Linked DNA regions of Homo sapiens: region 1 is linked to region 2. The links come from fine-mapping of genetic effects on gene expression. A gene starts in region 2. The other region holds a variant in brackets. All regions are shown on one strand. Distances are from middle to middle.

Region 1 (5,366 bases), 51 kb before region 2:
TCAGGCAAAATCCAAGCCTGGCCACTTAGTCGTTGAACGTCATTTCACCTCTCTAAGCCTCAGTTTCCTTATCTGCAAAATGGACCAATTGTGACTAGATAATGAGAGAAGCCATGTAACAGTATAGTTCCAATTGCCAGTCCATGAACGAGTGCTGCTCCAGGATGATTAGTATAGTCTATGAGTGTGTCAGTGTGAGGATGCTAACTACACATTCTTGAAAGGACTGCCCTCTGTTCTGAGTTACAGCCCTCCTCCTTCTCTTCCCCCTCTTCCTTGTTCTCCATTTTCTTCCCTTTCCCACTTGCCTTTCCCTCCTTCTTCTTTTTTTTTTTTTTTTGGTGTAAACCTGTCTTTTAAAAATGGAATTATTTTAAAGAATTTATCCTACAATATTCCTGACATGCCAAAGATATAAAGAGTAATATAGGCCGGGCGCGGTGGCTCACGTCTGTACTCCCAGCACTTTGGGAGGCCAAGGCAGGAGGATCACAAGGTCAAGAGATCGAGACTATCCTGGCTAACATGGTGAACCCCGTCTCTACTAAAAATACAAAAAATTAGCCAGGCATGGTGGCACCAGCTACTCGGGAAGCTGAGGCAGGAGAATTGCTTGAACGTGGGAGGCGGAGCGGAAGGCAGAGGTTGCAGTGAGCCGAGATGGCGCCACTGCACTCCAGCCTGGGCGACAGAGCTAGACTCCATCTCAAAAAAAAAAAAAAAATGGTAATATGGCTGGGTGTGATGGCTCACGCCTATAATCCCAGCACTTTGGAAGGTGAAGGCAGGCAGATTGCTTGAGCTCAGGAGTTTGAGATCAGCCTGGGCAACATAGCGAGACCCTGTCTCTACAAAACCCACAAAAGTTAGCTAGGTGTGGTAGCACACGCCTGTGGTCTCAGTTACTCAGGAGGCTGAGGTGGGAGGATTGCTTGAGCCCAGGAGGTAGACGCTGCAGTGAGCCGTGATCATGCCACTGCACTCCAGCCTGGGTGACACAGTAAGACTCTGTCTCAAAAAAAAAAAAAAAAAAGAATATAACAACCATCCATGTAGACACCATTCAGGATACTGTTTCACACTATCTGGTGAGTAAGCATTGAAGTCTAATACAAAGTCTTAGTGCTGGTGAAGTGGAGAGAGGGCCTCTTACACACTGCTGATGGGCATGTTAATTGGTAAAACCACTTCAGAGAGAAGTTGGCAATGTCTTCTATTTTTTTAAGTCCCTTCATGATGAAATTAAAAAATGGGAAGCCTACAGAAGCTCTCCCAAAACTCAGGAGAGTCCCCACGTCCCGGAGGGCGTGGAGCAGAGTGCAGCCCATCATTGGCTCATGACTGGTGGCCACATCCCTCCTGCTGAAGAGGAGGGGTGCCAGGTCCTGCCAGTCAGGGCTGCCCTCTCCCTTTTCTTCTGTCTCCTGCAGATGCCAGCTGTGAGGACAAGTCAGCTGCCAGAGGGCTGGCCCAGGAGGCTGAGGAGGGCCTCTTCAGATACATGTTCCGGCCATCCCAGCATACACGCAGCCGCCAGGTGACTTCAGCCCAGCTGTGGTTCCACACCGGGCTGGACAGGCAGGGCACAGCAGCCTCCAATAGCTCTGAGCCCCTGCTAGGCCTGCTGGCACTGTCACCGGGAGGACCCGTGGCTGTGCCCATGTCTTTGGGCCATGCTCCCCCTCACTGGGCCGTGCTGCACCTGGCCACCTCTGCTCTCTCTCTGCTGACCCACCCCGTCCTGGTGCTGCTGCTGCGCTGTCCCCTCTGTACCTGCTCAGCCCGGCCTGAGGCCACGCCCTTCCTGGTGGCCCACACTCGGACCAGACCACCCAGTGGAGGGGAGAGAGCCCGACGCTCAACTCCCCTGATGTCCTGGCCTTGGTCTCCCTCTGCTCTGCGCCTGCTGCAGAGGCCTCCGGAGGAACCGGCTGCCCATGCCAACTGCCACAGAGTAGCACTGAACATCTCCTTCCAGGAGCTGGGCTGGGAACGGTGGATCGTGTACCCTCCCAGTTTCATCTTCCACTACTGTCATGGTGGTTGTGGGCTGCACATCCCACCAAACCTGTCCCTTCCAGTCCCTGGGGCTCCCCCTACCCCAGCCCAGCCCTACTCCTTGCTGCCAGGGGCCCAGCCCTGCTGTGCTGCTCTCCCAGGGACCATGAGGCCCCTACATGTCCGCACCACCTCGGATGGAGGTTACTCTTTCAAGTATGAGACAGTGCCCAACCTTCTCACGCAGCACTGTGCTTGTATCTAAGGGTGGGGGGTCTTCCTTCTTAATCCCATGGCTGGTGGCCACGCCCCCACCATCATCAGCTGGGAGGAAAGGCAGAGTTGGGAAATAGATGGCTCCCACTCCTCCCTCCTTTCACTTCTCTGCCTATGGGCTACCCTCCCCACCCCACTTCTATCTCAATAAAGAACACAGTGCATATGACTTGACATATGTTCTCCAGCTTCTCTGATATGGAGTTGGGCCCCCAGGAGCATGGGACTGTCAGATCTCAGGTCACTCAGCCACACTTGACCTCAGAGACATGAAGTTCAAGAGCTATAACTGGATGTGTATTGGTTGGGAATCTACAACGCTTGGGGGTGACATAATAGTGCTCCAAGCTCCTTGGAGAGCCACCTTGGAGACAGAGCTGGACGCATGCAAGCTGAACCAGACATGTCAATCAGGTTGCCTGCCCTGCACACCTAAGGGAGACTGCTGCACTCACATG[A/C]CCACATCCAAGGCAGCCATAAGTCCCCTCCCCTGCCATTCTCTGCCACAGCTGATGGGCACTTAGCCCGAGGTCAGGTGATTTGTAGCCTGGCCAGAGACTGTGGCCTTTGGAGTCCCACTGAGACAATTGTCCAGAGTTGGCCAGACCTTGGAGTTACTTGGGAAGCTTGGGTGGGATGTAAGGGAGAGATATATGTGTTGGCAGCATCAGAAAGAAATTAACAAGGGCAAAGAGGTGGTGTTGTGTTAAGGTCAGACAGATCACCTGACCAAAGACCTGAGGATTTCCTTTTGCCAAAGGCCCTTCTTTGAATCCGTCACTGACTCTTGCTGTAGACTCCGTGAGGCCTCCTGCAGTAGGATTCTAGTTCATGAACTCTTTGTCTCCCTTGATGTCACCTGTACATGTTTACATAATCCCTTAACTCAGCCCTTAGCATCAGAAGAGTGGAAAGACTGAGGCTATTGCCAGAAAATAGAAAAGCTCTTTTGTGAATTTGTGCATGCAGGACATGGTGCAAAACAGCACTTTTCTTTTTTCATTGCGTTTCCTATCAGTCCATTCTGCCTCCGGATTTGGGCATGGGGAAGCCCCTCTCCGCTGGCCTTCCTCCCTGCTTTTTTCACTCTCCTTGTTATCCCCCTGGGTCTCGTTATCCTTGTGCTCCACCCCAGGGTCCCTGCTATCAGCCACTGGTTCCATCCAGTCTCCAACACGTGTGTGTGTGTGTGTGTGTGTGTGTGTGTTTGTGTGTGTGTGTTTAGGGGAAGGGCTGGGATGTTCAGGTCCATCAGACTGGAACTTGAGAGCACTTTCTGATATTGACTGCACAACTACAGTGTGTATTTATCTAACCAGAGTCTTTTACTGGTCAAAGACTCCTTTCTACCAGCCTGGCTTGATGGGGTGGAAGGGTAAGCGCCTGCTCCAGTGAGCGGTGCAGCGGGAAAGAATCCTATCCCGTCACAGTTACACCAACACCCCTCCCCCACCGGAGCTAACCTGAATGAGCCACTGTTCCCTGCAGCACAGGAGCCTTCAGAGCCATGTACGTGCTCCTGTACACGCCCCAGTCTCTGTTGACACTGAGTCCCCCAGAAGGCTGTCACTGTTCTGGAGGGGGAAACCTGCTTGTTTGCAGTCCCCAGCCTCTCCCAGGACCTTCGTGTTGACTCAGCATTGGAAGCGCTCTGTGCTCAGAGCTCTGTGCATCCCTATTCAGGCAGTGGGCTGGGGAGACAGCTGCTTGGGCTCTGCCAGTGGTGGGAAGGGGAGGTTTTTTCCAAGCCTGTCTATGTTCTACGTGCTCCCTGCCTGGCTTCTCTGGCTAGATCCTCCCTTCCCAAACAGTGAGGTCTTTCCCTGGGATCTTCAATTTTCCTACTAGGCTTCAGCTCTTCATTCTTCCTGCTGGGGCCCCCTAGAACCCTGTGTTATCCAGATGCTCCCTGTCCCAGGGATGAGGATGGGCGCTGAGGGCTGGGGGCAGATTACTGAGGGGTACAGGATTCTCCACGAGGCCAGTTAGCAGATTGGTATTGCAAGTGAAAAGCGTGCACATGTCTGAGACAAAATGAGAAAAATGAGTATGAGGGAGTCTTTCACAAAGCCAAATATATTCATTTTATAAAGGCTATCTTTCAATGCTACCCATTACCTTTTCTGCTTGTGGGTGTGTGACAGTGTTAGCTCTTTCATGATGTTATGAAGAGGGTAGAAAGTAGTGGTTTTGTTTGTTTGCATTTCTACCCAACAAAATTTAAACTTGGCAATTCCAGTTTGGAATGTAAGATTTTTCTTTGGAATTTTGTTGCCCTGTGAAATCTGTGAGATCCCAATGTCTGACAGTCACTGTTCGGAGCCACTCCTTCTAAGGTCTCTAATACCTAGATTCTGCTAACGCAGCAAATTAGGAAAGATGTTCACAGATCCCTAAGAGGGGCTCCACAGTGGCTACGGACATCGTTTTGTTTTCTATCCTCATCAAGACACCAGCCCAAGAGCAGTGAATTTCAAAGATGATCCCTGTTCCCAATGCTAATCATTAGGGACGTACTGTGAATACTCTTAGTTTGGAGTCAGTTTAAACAGAAAACCCAGCTCCAACTGGATTAGATCAAAAAGTGTATTTAAGCCAGGCGCGGTGGCTCACGCCTGTAATCCCAGCACTTTGGGAGGCTGAGGTGGGCGGATCACCTGAGGTTAGGAGTTCTGACTCCATCTCTACAGAAAATATGAAAATTAGCCGGGCATGGTGGCACTTGCCTATAATCCCAGCTACTTGGGAGGATGAGGCAGGAGAATCACTTGAACTCAGGAGGCGGAGCTTGCTTGCAGTGAGCAGAGTTCGCGCTACTGCACTCCAGCCTGGGTGACAGACTGAGACTTCCTCTCAAAAAAAAAAAAAAAAGTTTTTAAAACTCACCAGCACTGGCTCATTGGCTCATGATAAATCCACAGGCACAGCTAGCTAAGGTATGGCTCAATTCTGGGCTCAAAAGATGCTACTAGGATCCATCTATAGGCTCTAGTTCCCCCCAGATCAGCTCCATCCTGGGTCCATGGCAACTCCAGGCAGCACAGGCTCCCATCATTATGCAGCTTGGTCCGGCAGGAGGGAGTTCACTTACA
Region 2 (5,332 bases):
ACAGAATCAGAGGAATCCACCCGAGGGCTTCTGGCCCATTCATGGGGAGCCCAGAGAACGGTGTGCTTTGCCTCCAAATCTGGGTGGTGTGGCGGGATGGCTCCTGCTCCTTCGGACCTAAGGGACAGGCTGTGGTGCTGCTGCATGTGCAGACAAGTGTCCTATGCTGCCAGCATGCAGGGTGGGGACATTCCTGTGAGACTGGACTGTGAGGAAGGGTGTGACAGTTGGCTACTGCTCTAAGCTGGCCTGTCGCTGGCTTCAGCCTTTGCTGTCACCTTTCCTGTCACCATTTCAGTGTCTACAGGCTGTAAGCTAGAAGCTGACACATACCCAGAGTGGCCATCCTTTGTGCATGCAAGGAGTGCTCTTTTGTCACAGAAATGAAGACCCCATCGGGAACACACTGTAGGGGACTGACAATTACAGGTGCGCCGCAGGCAGGATGTCAAAGACGAGAGCGGGCCTAATGAAAGCATGCGTTTATGTCTAATAGGATGAGTTGGTGGGTGTCAGCATCATCTTACTCCCCCCAGCCTGGAAAGAAAGAGATAAACATGGGTGTCTAAAGGCTCTTCAAGGGGAGATTTTACTCCATCATCTCAGAGGGGTGGAGGAGAGAGGAAGGTCTGTAAGGGTAGAGAACGAAGCCTCAGACTCTGGGTGGGGTGCGGGTCTCCAACTGAAAGAATGGGGGTCTGGGGCTACCAAAAGTTGAGGGCCTGTGCTCAGCATCCTCTCTGGGGTGGATGGAACCTCAGAGGGACAAGTCCTGTGACACCCTTATGGCATCTTGGTGTGCAGGATGTACATGGCCTGGTACACCAGGGGTCCCTGGTTGGCAAGACCCTTCTCAGGCTGTCTCAGTATTAAAGTAACTGCTGTCTGACTTTACAGACTAGAGGAGCGGGGCTGGGAACACAATGTCGAGGTGGATTGAAGACCAGAGCCCCTGTGCAATGCCGACCAGGAAAGGTTCCAAGGCTCTTGAGTGTCTCTAAGGACGTGAAGGCCCTACCAAAACAAAATTCAAGGTAGGGACTTGGAACCACATTGCCTGGCTCAGAGGAATAAAGAATTGGGATAGCTCTGGTTTGCTAGGGCTACTGTAACACAGTATCATAAACCCAGTGGCTTAAACAATGGAAATCTACTGTCTTACAGATCTGGAGGCTAGAAGCCAGACATCGAGGTGTCTGCAGGGCTAGGCTCTCTCTGAAGGGACTAGGGAAGGATCTGTTCCAGGCCTCTCTCCTAGCTTTGGTAGTTCCTTGGCTTGTGGCAGCATAACTCCAGTCTTCACAAAGCGTTCTCTGAATGCACGTCTCTTTGTCCAAATTTCCCCCATATATATATATACATATATTTTTTTTTTTTGAGATGGAGTCTTGCTCTGTCACCCAGGCTGGAGTGCACTGGCACGATCCCTGCTCACTGCAACCTCTGCCTCCTGGGTTCAAGCAATTCTCCTGCCTCAGCCTCCTGAGTAGCTGGGATTACAGGCGTGTGCCACCACGCCCAGCTAATTCTTAGTAGAGACAGGGTTTTACCATGTTGGCCAGGCTGGTCTCGAACTCCTGATCTCACGTGATCCACCCGCCTTGGCCTCCCAAAGTGCTGGGATTACAGGTGTGAGCCACCGCACCTGGCCAATTTCCCCTTTTCACTGGAACACCAGTCATAATGGATGAGTCCACCCTTATCTTAACATCTGCAAGAACGTTATTGCCAAATAAGGGCACACTCTGATGTACCAGGGGTTAGGACTTCAACGTATAAATTTTGGGGGACACTACTCAACTCCCAACAGCTGGGTCTCCCATTCTGAGTTTTGGGGCACAGCTGTGCTCTGCCTAGGCATAGCTGATTCCCACCCTAGGAATTCCCACCTTGGGACTCACCATGTGAGACTTAGGAGGACAGTTCATCTCTTTCAGTTAAAAATTTTGTTTGTGGCTTGGAGAGTCACTTCAATACATGGATAATGATGCCCAAACCTGTCGGCAGCCTGCTTTCCAGCTGTGACCATGGCAGGTAACGAGCCTCCCTGAGTCTCCACTGTCCTCTGCCGACCAAATGGGAATCATAACAGCTCCTCTTATTATTATGCCTGAGACGAGGCAGCCAGTCTGGAGAGGGCCAACCTAGCACAGGACTGTGAGCACACACAAGACAATGTGGGCGTCCAACAGATCCTAGCTCCCTTCCCCTTGGAAGGCTATGCACACAGAAAATCTTTCCTTGGGTTGAGCTGAGATCTAGATGAGGCCAGGGGTCAGACGCGGTGAAGTACCAAGGTCACAGGGCTGTTATGGCATCGCACTGTGTAGAAGTCCAGTTTCATTGATCTCGGGATAGGGGCCGATTGGGGTCCAGTGGCTCCTTCGAAAGACCTTTTGCCCTTGGAAAATGAGATGTGACCTCAGGGATAGGGGGAGAAGGGAGAGGAAATGTGGAAACGGAGCCACACAGTCTTAGAGTTGCATAGAACTTTGGAACACCCCTATTGCAGGCCCCTCTCGCTACAGCTGGGGAAGCTGAGGCGGGAGGAGGGGAGGTACTGTGTCAAGGTCAAACGTTGGGTGGTGCCAGGCGACAGAAGCCAGGCCTTTGAGAGGCAAGGCTGTGGTAGAAATGAAAGGGGAGGTGGTGGGTGCTTCCAGGGGTCTGTGAGCTCCGTTCCCAAGACTGGAGGGGCCTGTGTCTGCGGAGGGGGTGGCTTCCTGGGCTCTGGAGGGGAGGGGAGGCTAAAAGCAGGGTTGGGGAGCGAATCTGGGGGATTGTGGGAATATCGGGCCGCGCCCCAGCCCCCAGCGATGCGTGGGGCGCCTGGAGAAGGGGCGCACGGGCAGGTGGGGTGCTGCGGGGCCCGCGCGTGGGGGCCGCGCCGGCCGGGGCGGGGTGAGTCACGGCCCGCCCGCTCCCATTGTGCGGCCCGGCGGCGGCGGCGGCGGCGGCGGCGGCGGCGGAGGTGCGGAGCGGAGCGCGAGGAGGTGGAGCCGCGGGCTGCGGGCTCCGGCGCCTGCGTCCGCCCGGCCAGCCCGGCTCTGCGCTGCGAGAGGCCGGACGGCAGTCGCGGCTGCGCTCGGGAGAGAGCGCGGGGGACATGGGGCGCGGCGGCCCGCCTGGGCCTCGCAGGCTCCGGAGCCCCGAGGTACCGCGGGGCGGGGCACGCCGGGCAGGGCGGGGGACCCGGGCTGTCCCGGGCGTGGCTGGGCCTCGGAGGGGCGCTTGGGCCGGGAGCGTGCATCCGGCTCCCGGGTGGGGGGCGCCAGCGCAAGGAACCTGACCCCGCCCTCCTCCCCCAGGGCTCCCCGCTAGGCCCCCTCAGTGGCCCCTCCTTCTCACCTGGGTCTCGGGTCCCCTAGTGAGCGAGAGCGTCCCCAGCCGCCTACCTGGCCATGGCCAACGGAGTGATCCCGCCGCCCGGGGGCGCCTCCCCCCTACCCCAGGTGATCGGCGCGCGCGGGGGCGGGGGAGAGATGGGGGAGGAGAGGGGAGGGACCTTAGGGTGGGCAGAGGAGTCCTCTGGCCGACCCCGGGACCCCCCAGATCCAGGGATGAGCTGGGCTGGGGGTTACGGAGAAAGAGGGGGGTTTTTGATATTTTCCAGATCCGTAGCCCTCTCTCTTTACAAGCTCTGGGAGCCCAGAGAGGGTGGTTTCTGGGATGCTGACACAGGCCTGGGAGCAAGGGGAGGGGGCCCGATGGTGTGAGAGCCTGCTGAGCTCCCCCAACTAGGGCTTGGAGTTGGGGTGGGTGTGGGGCCTTCATGGGTCAGGGGTCCTTAGCAGAGGCCGTCTGGGCCTGCAGGTCCGGGTGCCCTTGGAGGAGCCCCCTCTAAGTCCAGACGTGGAGGAGGAGGACGATGACTTGGGCAAGACCTTGGCTGTGAGCAGGTTTGGGGACCTCATCAGCAAGCCCCCGGCCTGGGACCCCGAGAAGCCCAGCCGCAGCTACAGCGAGCGGGACTTTGAGTGTGGGTAGCCTGGGGACCCCTAGTGCGGCCGCCCTCGCCACCATCACCTTCATCGCCACCATCACCGCGCTCACCTCCGGCTTGGTCACCCAGTGCCATCCTGTGCCGGACACTGTGCTGGACTCTGTGCTGGGCCACATGCCGTGTTCAGTCATCCTGCCTCCCCCACCCATCGCCTGTCCGCCTGCCTGGGGAGGTGGGCCCCAGACCAGGGGAGATCTAGGGAGCTGGGCCTGGGCCCTTCCACGGTGACCTTCCCCTTCCCCTTCGTCCCCACTCACTCCCTCCTTGTCCCACCTCGGCTAGTCCAACTCCGCCTTTCCCCTCCTTGCTGTATCACGTCTCCCCTCCCAGCCCCCTTCATGACCTTCCCTGTCCATCCACCCTCTCCTCCCACTCCACCAGACCTCATCAATGACAGGCACGTGGACACAGGTGTTGGGGGGTCATGGCCCTGGAGGAAGGACTAGGGTGCCCTTGTTTGCGGCCTTGAGCTGGAAGGTGTGTGCCCTCGGGTGGGGAGGGCCCCTGTTTCTGCTGTGGGGGCCTCAACCGGATCTCCTGCACCCCCAGTTCACCGGCACACATCCCACCACACCCACCACCCGCTCTCAGCGCGCCTGCCTCCACCCCACAAGCTGCGGCGGCTGCCCCCCACCTCTGCCCGGCACACCAGGAGAAAGAGGAAGAAGGAGAAAACCTCTGCTCCTCCCTCCGAGGGGACCCCTCCCATCCAGGAGGAGGGGGGAGCTGGAGTGGATGAGGAAGAGGAGGAAGAGGAGGAAGAGGAAGGAGAATCTGAGGCAGAACCTGTGGAGCCCCCCCACTCAGGGACCCCACAGAAGGCAAAGGTAGGGGCTTCCCTTTGGAGGGGTGGCAGGTCAGGGGTCAGGGAGGGGTACAGAGAGGAGGAGAGGAGTGCGTGTTGGGGGCCTGTGTGAGGCTGGGTAGGGTTGGGGGCTGTATGGTAGGTCGGGGCAAGGCCCCAGGGCACATTCTATGTCTGCAGTTCTCCATTGGAAGTGACGAGGATGACAGTCCAGGCCTCCCTGGGAGGGCTGCTGTCACCAAGCCCCTGCCCTCGGTGGGCCCACACACTGACAAGAGCCCCCAGCACTCCAGCAGGTACTGGCTGCAGCCTCTACTCAGCAGGGCCCAGCCCAGAGCCACAGGGTCCAGAGCTCCTGGCAGTCACCTCCTTCCTGACCCTGGGGAGTGTCCCCAGCTCTGACCCTGAGAAAAGAGGAGCAGGGTGTGGGAGGGGGGTGGGGATCCTTCTCTGTCCTCATGATTTACAAGGAGGAGAGAACAAGGGGGGGGGGAGAAAAACAGAGAAGAGCAGAGTGAAGAGGT

Direction of the effects. Alleles are on the strand shown, and positions count from the first base shown. SD is a standard deviation of normalised expression in the study named.
For the expression in thyroid of the gene that starts at base 3,039 in region 2, A is the high allele of the variant in region 1 and C is the other (small effect, 0.20 SD a copy in GTEx).

The links. PIP is the estimated chance that this variant, and not a neighbour inherited with it, causes the effect.
Region 1: its variant is the best candidate, but not a certain one, in a credible set for the expression of SLC4A3 in thyroid (GTEx, PIP 0.64).

The regions. Positions count from the first base shown.
Region 1 is chr2:219,573,264-219,578,629 of GRCh38, forward strand. INHA (inhibin subunit alpha) reads left to right here. Exons shown (of 2, transcript NM_002191.4): 2 at 1,431-2,448. The coding sequence ends at 2,263. Among named protein-coding and RNA genes, the nearest start is that of INHA, 3.6 kb to the left of the region's middle. RefSeq lists an enhancer at 3,302-3,877. The variant A/C (reference allele first, on the strand shown) is at 2,733.
Region 2 is chr2:219,624,592-219,629,923 of GRCh38, forward strand. SLC4A3 (solute carrier family 4 member 3) reads left to right here and starts at 3,039. Exons shown (of 23, transcript NM_005070.4): 1 at 3,039-3,154; 2 at 3,309-3,452; 3 at 3,814-3,979; 4 at 4,553-4,830; 5 at 4,989-5,104. The coding sequence starts at 3,402. It overlaps LOC124908064 (a long non-coding RNA gene), which reads right to left and starts at 3,419. Exons shown (of 2, transcript XR_007088701.1): 1 at 3,349-3,419. RefSeq lists enhancers at 3,542-4,244, 4,245-4,946.